Linked DNA regions of Homo sapiens. The protein of the gene in region 1 interacts with the protein of each later gene in a biochemical or structural test. Each region holds a gene or a part of one and is shown in the gene's direction. Other genes may lie near its edges.

Region 1 (3,750 bases):
GTCTCTGTCTCCTACCTCTGCTTTCTCTACCTTTTATAAACATTTTGTTTAACTTTTATTGTGGTAAAATACACATAACACTTCTCTTCTTTTAGACCTGGGCTGGTAAGAAGTGCTGAAGATGTTTTTTAGAGATTTGTGGTATGACAAATTCCACTGGGGTTTCTGACCTTCTCAGTCATGCTTGTCTTGGGGTCACCACTCCTTGGCCCTCTCCTATGGCACCTGTCCCTCATTCTGCTCAAGCCCCTATGCCTTCCCAACAACTTGCCTTTAGCTCTGGGCAGATGTCTTTGCTTGCACTTGTCACAGAGAACATGAAGGCTCTCTGCTGTTTTGTGCCCATGCACATGCCTCTTCTCTGTCTTTACCTCCTGTCCTCCAGGCTTGGAGGGAGAGCACCTAGCTCCCATCATTTTCTTGTACACTCTCCCTGTCCCTCTGGATGCTACGCCAGCATTTTCCCTCCCCTACTCCTTCACCTCCACATTTTGTCTTTCTTTACTGTTCCTTTCCTGCAGAAATACATGCCCAAGTTGTTCCCATCTTAAACACAGACAAATGAAAAACAAAAGGATTTAAGTTTTGTCTATACCACATTTTCCTTTAGTTTATCCCTATGTTTTTTCCTTGATAAACTACTACATACCTTCAAAGAATAGTCTGCAGTCCTTGTTTTCTTTTGTTAACTTTCCATTTCTTCTTTGGGCCCCTGGAATCAGGCTTCTACTCTCACTATTAAAGTCACTGGTTCCCTGGTTACCAAATGTAAGGGTCTCTCTAGGCCTCATTTTACTTGACCTTTCTAAAATATTTAATGCTGGCCACTTTCATCTTTATGAAAGCTTTAGGTTTCTGGGATGCCACTCCTGATTTTCCTACCTTTGGTCCATTTCTTCTCCTTTGCTGACCTTCTTCCTCTGGCCACCCAGCTCTTAAATGCTGATCCTCCCTGAGTCTCCCTTTCGATAGTCTCATTTATCTGCATGGTTTTAATGACCATATCTGCACAGGTGATTCGGAAACCTGAATCTTCCACCCAGATCACTCTCTTGAGCTCTAAACCCACGTAACATAATCCTTTTAACAATTCTACAAAATAGCACTGTTTCCCACATTTATAGGTGAGGAAATTGAGGCTAAGAAAGGTAACCTGTTTGAAGTCAGTGGAAAAGCCAGGATTTTAACGTCTACCTAAAATCAGGCCTTTAACTCTATTAATCAAACATCTCCACCTGGTTATCTGACAGATATATCCTACACTGAATGCCATCTCATAATCCTGTTCTCCTTCCTTGCCTCAAAAAAAATTAGAAAATGTGAAAGACTATATTCTCAATCTCAGTGAATGACATTCCTTCTTTTCAGTTATACAAGTTGGAATGTAAAGGGAATTGACATAGACTTTTCTCTGTCTCCTACCCTGCAGGTCCATCTAGCCCGAGGTAGTATCAGTTCTTGTGCATCTACCTTTTTGACGTGACTTGTAATCATACCCTCCTCTTTATTCTCACTGCTACTGACATAGTTAAGAACTTTATCTTGACTGTTATTGCCATTATAGTGACAGTCTAACTCACTGCTTCTCACATTATCTGAGCTGAAGAACCAGGGTTTATTGTTTCTGTTTTTTTAATTTTTAATCTGTTGCAGAAATTTTGTAGCATATAAAAAAATTAATTAGAAAAATGAAATGAAAAAAGACATACAAAAATAGCTCAGTTTTATACATTATTAAATTCAATACACATAAAAATTACTCTGTCAAATTGTCATAAAAGTTTTTGGGTACTAATAGTCTATGTATATCCTGTCCCAGATGGGTCACACTTTTGCACATTGGCACTGGTCCACAAACAACATTGAGGAATGCTAGTTCACAGTATCTGATGAAAAGAAATGTCTTCAGTTCTCTTAGATTATAACCACATGGGCCTATGTTATTTAAAACTGAAACATTTCAGTAGAAGGTTCTTTGCTTTGACTTATAGATAGCTTCTATATGTGGATTTAAGAGGTTTTAGAAAATTCCCTGTTTCTTTAGGATCCCTTCTTTCAGTAGGAATAAATCCCATCGAGCAAGGGGTAATCATGTGTTATGTTACAATTTAATGCCAAAATCAAAGTGTACTGACTTAAGAATCAAATCAACATTTTCTTAAATAGGCTTGAAGTACCTTCATGTATCTTCATGGGATACCTGTAATAAAAGTGATTTTCCCTGATTTGATATATTTAACTTGATATGATTGTGCATACAAAAAAAAAACTGTGCTTCTATATTGCACAGTGAAATATAGCAAATGGGTTGATGTGATCTCCATTTCTGAAAGATTAAAATTCTACGTTGGTATTATTCTGACTGGGAGTGAAATAATAAAAGTAAGTTATTTGGATTTAGGCAGGCATCTGACTAAGCCCTTGTCAGAAGATTTGAAATTAATGACATGCAGACAGGAGATACCAAATTGTCAAACTGTAGAATATCTCTTGGCTTTAAATGGCATGGCAGAAGAATAAAAAAACACAGCAACAAAGTTCTAAGGGGACAGAATTGAGAGATTGGAATGCTCTAAATATTAAGCTGAGATTGTACCTGGAGTTAGTTCAGAAATATAGTAAATAAAACCATGCTGTACAGAACCCATTGTTGTCTGCAGTAGGCCTGACACAGAACAAAACACATGGGGCAAATGCCTGAGAGCATAATCTTCCCATGTGTGGTAAAAAAGTCAAAAAAGGCCTTTTTAGACATTTTTAAATTAAAAAAAAAAATTAAGCTAGTCTACAGCAGTGTGCCAGGAACCAAAAAACTACTACAGAAACTTTCTAATCATTAAGAGTTTTAAAAGCAATTTTAAAAAATTGAATACAGCAATATTTGCTCTGTTAATGAAGTGTATGACCCAAAACACTATTAACTATCAAAACAGAACATACTTTTTTTTTTTAACAAGAAATTGGGGCACTATAGGAAGTTTAGGAGATTATATTCCCAAAAGCAGTATGTTAGAACCCTTCTTCTTTCATAGTAGATGGGTAGATGGCAGAATGCTAAACTCATACCTAGAAAATGATTAGAAGTTTTATTCAAATAAAAATTTTAAAGTAGCATAACTTGTATACAGTTCAGGTTGGAGAGGAGTCAGGAAAAGGTAACCTCATTGTGATCCATATGCTCCCCAAAGCAGAAATGGGTGAAGTGAAATGAAAAGAAAGTTTATTTTTTAAAGGTAATAAAGACAAAGGAAAAACAAAAAAACATAACTTTTCTTAATTTGTGTTGTAGCAAGTTAAGCTGAGGTACGGAATACCAGGTGGATGGGCATGGGAAAGGGAGATGATGACACTGCAAGCAGAGGGAAGAGAAAAGAAAAAGAGACATGTGGAGGATAGCGTGGAATAGCTGCCTGGCCTGTGCTCAAAATAGTAAGCAGTTTGGGATGGCCAGAGCATACTCAGGAATGGTATTTAGTGCTGGCTGGGATCTGACCATGGAAGATGCTTATACCAGTGCCTCTCAAACTTAAGTGCACGTGAGCACCCGAGGATTTGTTAAAATTCGTATTCTAGGTGGAGACTTCAGAGGCTGCGTTTCTAACAAGCTGCAATGTGATGCAAATGCTGCAGGGTCACAGGCCACACTGAACAGCAAAACTGCAAATTTTATCCTAATATTTATCAATAATATGTTTTATGGATGAAGAGTTTCCACCATTACAGTGTTTGTTGAATAGCACAAAATACATA
Region 2 (3,750 bases), on another chromosome or scaffold:
TAATTTTTCATACTTACATCTTTAATCCATCTGGAGTTTACTTTGTTCTAAGGTGCAAGGTAGATGTTTTCCTTTTCTGACACTTTAAATGAGCTGTAAACTTAGAATTTCAGACCTGGAAATGATGTTACATTTCTACTAGTCTACCTTATGTCTTTAGAACTGAAAAAATCTGAGAACCAGGAAGTTCCAGTGACTTGTTCCAGTTCAGATAGCTAATTAATGACAGAACCACAGTTAGATTTCTGTTTGCTCTCTTAATTTAATACTTTTGCACCATTCCAATGGCTTGCTTATAGAGCAGGCCATCTTTAGTCATCTCCTTTATGTTCCTTTATATTGCTTACATCACATTTTATAATCATTATACACATTTACATATTTTGCTTATATGTGTTGTATTTCAAAGAGTTTTAAGAGAATCTTATTTTTCACTCCCCAACCCTCACCCCCCTTACTACCATGGAGATCTCGTACATAATCTACCAAATTGTAAAAGAACTTTGCTTTCTGATGAGATGCCTTCCATAAAGCTTGGTTCCATCTTCCAAATAGAGGTTAGTCACTCTTCTCTCTCTCTCTCTTTTTTAGAGGGTATCTCATTAGGTAATTCAGAGGCAGACAGACAATTGCTGGAAGCTGCAAAGGCTGGAGATGTCGAAACTGTAAAAGTAAGATACAGTGTTACGTTTCTGTTAACTTTGGGTTTTTATTTTGACATTGTTATTTAATCTGTACTGTTACAATGAAGAGCCTGGTTTATTTGTATGGGCCTTGCCTTAAAAGGTCAATAATACAATCTTAATTGTTCTCTACAAATGAGTAGCTTTAAGTAATGAAAGAGAAAGACTTCACTTTCACCTGCATCCCAGTGAATATTACATTCACAAATATAAATAAATTCGGGTAATACCAAATGGGTTTTGCTTGAAGAACCTATTCATTTGTCCCTTTAACAGAATAAAGTTTATCAAATTATTTTATATTACTGTTTACGTATGACACATAAAACAAGAAAGGGGAAAAACAGTGTATCACTTCTGTCTATAGATTTCTTCTGATTTCTTCATTTCTTCACCCCATCTACCTCTAGGGATCCAGGGCTTAGTATAATAATAAATACAATGTTGCCACTTCTCTTTCCCAGGGCTTGCAACTTCAGGTCTTACCTGTTTCTCCGACAAGAGTCTTCCCCAGAGTAACCCTTCTTACTGTTTTGACTCTTGCTGTAGAAATATGTATGTAAAACTGGGCCCAGTGGCTCACACCTGTCGGTAATCCCAGCACTTCGTGAGGCTGAGGCGGGTGGATCACCTGAGGTTAGGAGTTTCAGACCAGCCTGGCCAACATGGCGAAACCCCGTCTCTACTAAAGACACAAAAATTAGCTGGGCGTAGTGGGATGCACCTGTAATCCCAGGTACTTGGGAGGCTGAGACAGTATAGACATCTCAGATAACTTCAGATTTGTTTTCTAAATTCATTTCTCACAGAAAAATGCAACTATCATGCAGTTTTATTATTTGACATGTTTTTATTTTGATCCTCATTATTCTCATTCCCTTAAGTAGGAGGCTAATAGGATATCGAAAGGAGGATTTTGTTTCTATTACTACTGACTTGTGGAAATACAAATTACTTCAGTTAAAAGGTTGTGAACTGATTTTTTTTTCAGGAAACATGAAAATTGAGTTGAAAGCAATTAGCTGATTTTTTTTTTTTTTTTTTTTTTTTTTTTGCTGTTTGTGGGAAGGGAGAGATACAGAATTGTAAATGCTCATTCTCTTACATATATTAAAGAACATAAAACTATATTTAGTAAACATGTTAAAGACTAAACTTTGTTTTTATAAAGATAGAGGGAGTCCAGAGGAGGGGATAGATAAAGAGGAGATGAAGTTGGGGGGCAGGAAATGGACTTAGGGAACACAGTAATGCCATTGGATTCAGGAAAACCTGTGCTAGGCATCAGGCTTTCTTCCCTCCCCTCTGCTTTTAAAATCACTTGATGGACATTTATCTCCATCAGCCATTCTTCTTATCTACCTCCAGACAGATGGCTCTGTACGAATCACTGGGACAAGAACATCTGCGTATTACCTAATGAACACTTAACTATTGTGCTCAGTTGTGTTTGTTCACTGATAATCCACCAGGCTGGATACTTTATTCGACACATGCTATTAGAAAACCTATCTCAGAGTGGACAAAATTAAACTGACAGGTAAAGAGTAGAATGGCCTGTGATAACTACCAAACCAAGCAGCACCTGGTACACGTGTTAAAAATAGTCATTTCTAGGAACCTGACTTGAGACCCACTGAAATACCATCTCTTGAATGGGGCCCTGAATCTGTATATCTAGCCAGATCTTATTTGGGAAGCACAGAAGAGCTTTTTACCAGGACAATGATTAAACCCCTTGAGGTAAACCCACTGATAGTAGGCTCCTTTATTTTATTGAGCTTAGGTTATCCCTGTTTTGGGAGTAGGTTAGTAAAAAGGGGGAAAGAGTTTTTACTAATATGGATATATTCTTTTTGTTTGTTTGTTTGTTTGAGATGGAGTTTCACTCTTGTTGCCCAGGCTGGAGTGCAATTGCACGATCTCGGCTCACAGCAACCTCCACCTCCCGGGTTCAAGCAATTCTCTTTCCTCAGCCTCCCGAGTAGCTGGCATTACAGGCGCCCGCCACCACGCCCAGATAATTTTTTGTATTTTTAGTAGAGACGGTTTCACCATGTTGGCCAGGCTGGTCTCGAACTCCTGACCTCAGGTGATCCACCCGCCTGGCCTCCCAACGTGCTGGGATTACAGGCGTGAGCCACCGTGCCCGGCCTAAGATAGATATATTCTTTTGACTCTTTAAGCACTCTGATTTATTATCTATGTTGCTTTTCTTCCCCAAACTTTCATACTTTTCATAACTACACTTCCTCCTCTGAACCAAAGAGCACAGAAAATTGACTGTTTTCTTAATTCTCCCCAGGACTGTATAAACCATCAGCATTTTTTTTTCCTTTTTTCTTTTTTGGAGATGGAGTCTGGGTTGGTCACCCACGCTGGAGTGTGATGGCACGATCTCAACTCACTGCAACGTCTGCCTCCCAGGTTCAAGCGATTCTCCTGCTTGACCCTCCCAAGTAGTAGAGACAGGGTTTTGCCATGTTGGCCAGGATGGTCTCAAACTCCTGACCTCAAGTGATCTGCCCGCCTCAGCCTCCCAAAGTGCTGTGATTACAGGCATGAGCCACCACGTTCAGCCTAACCATCAGCATTCTATTAGTTATTTCATTCCACATGGAGTGGTATGGTTACTGAACCACCAGCATCAGCATCACCCAAGAACTTGTTAGAAGTGGAGATTTTTAGGCTCCACACCAGTTACACTGAAAATTTGAGGGTTGGACCCAATGCACATTAAAGTTTGAGAACCACTGCTCTAAAGGAGTACTTTTCAAACTTTAATGTGTTTCCATATTACCTAGGGATCTTGTTAAAGGGCAAATTCTGACTCAGTAGATAGAGATCTGAGATTCTGAATTCTTAATAAGCTCCTTGGTAATGCTGGTACTACCGTAATCTCATGTACCTCTATGTATATTTGCCACAAAATGCAAGTTACACTTGCTGATGATTGGCACTTAGTTTACCTGTATATATATATAGTAGCGGTAATGATAAAATTTACCCTTGAGCGTTAGAAAAAGTAGAATATAAAGGCATACGTGAGACCAGGCACGGTGGCTCA

Evidence for each region. The genes of interacting proteins can lie anywhere in the genome.
Region 2: the proteins of LNPEP (region 1) and TNKS2 form a complex in vitro, tested with the Homo sapiens proteins (4 studies listed by BioGRID and IntAct, with this or other methods).

What each region holds. Positions count from the first base shown.
Region 1 is NC_000005.10:96,973,987-96,977,736, forward strand, and holds part of LNPEP (leucyl-cystinyl aminopeptidase), read left to right. Parts: intron 1-3,750. UniProt on the Homo sapiens protein: Release of an N-terminal amino acid, cleaves before cysteine, leucine as well as other amino acids. Degrades peptide hormones such as oxytocin, vasopressin and angiotensin III, and plays a role in maintaining homeostasis during pregnancy.
Region 2 is NC_000010.11:91,836,328-91,840,077, forward strand, and holds part of TNKS2 (poly [ADP-ribose] polymerase tankyrase-2), read left to right. Parts: exon of another isoform or gene 1-326; coding exon of another isoform or gene 327-557; intron 558-591; coding exon 592-671; intron 672-3,750. UniProt on the Homo sapiens protein: Poly-ADP-ribosyltransferase involved in various processes such as Wnt signaling pathway, telomere length and vesicle trafficking.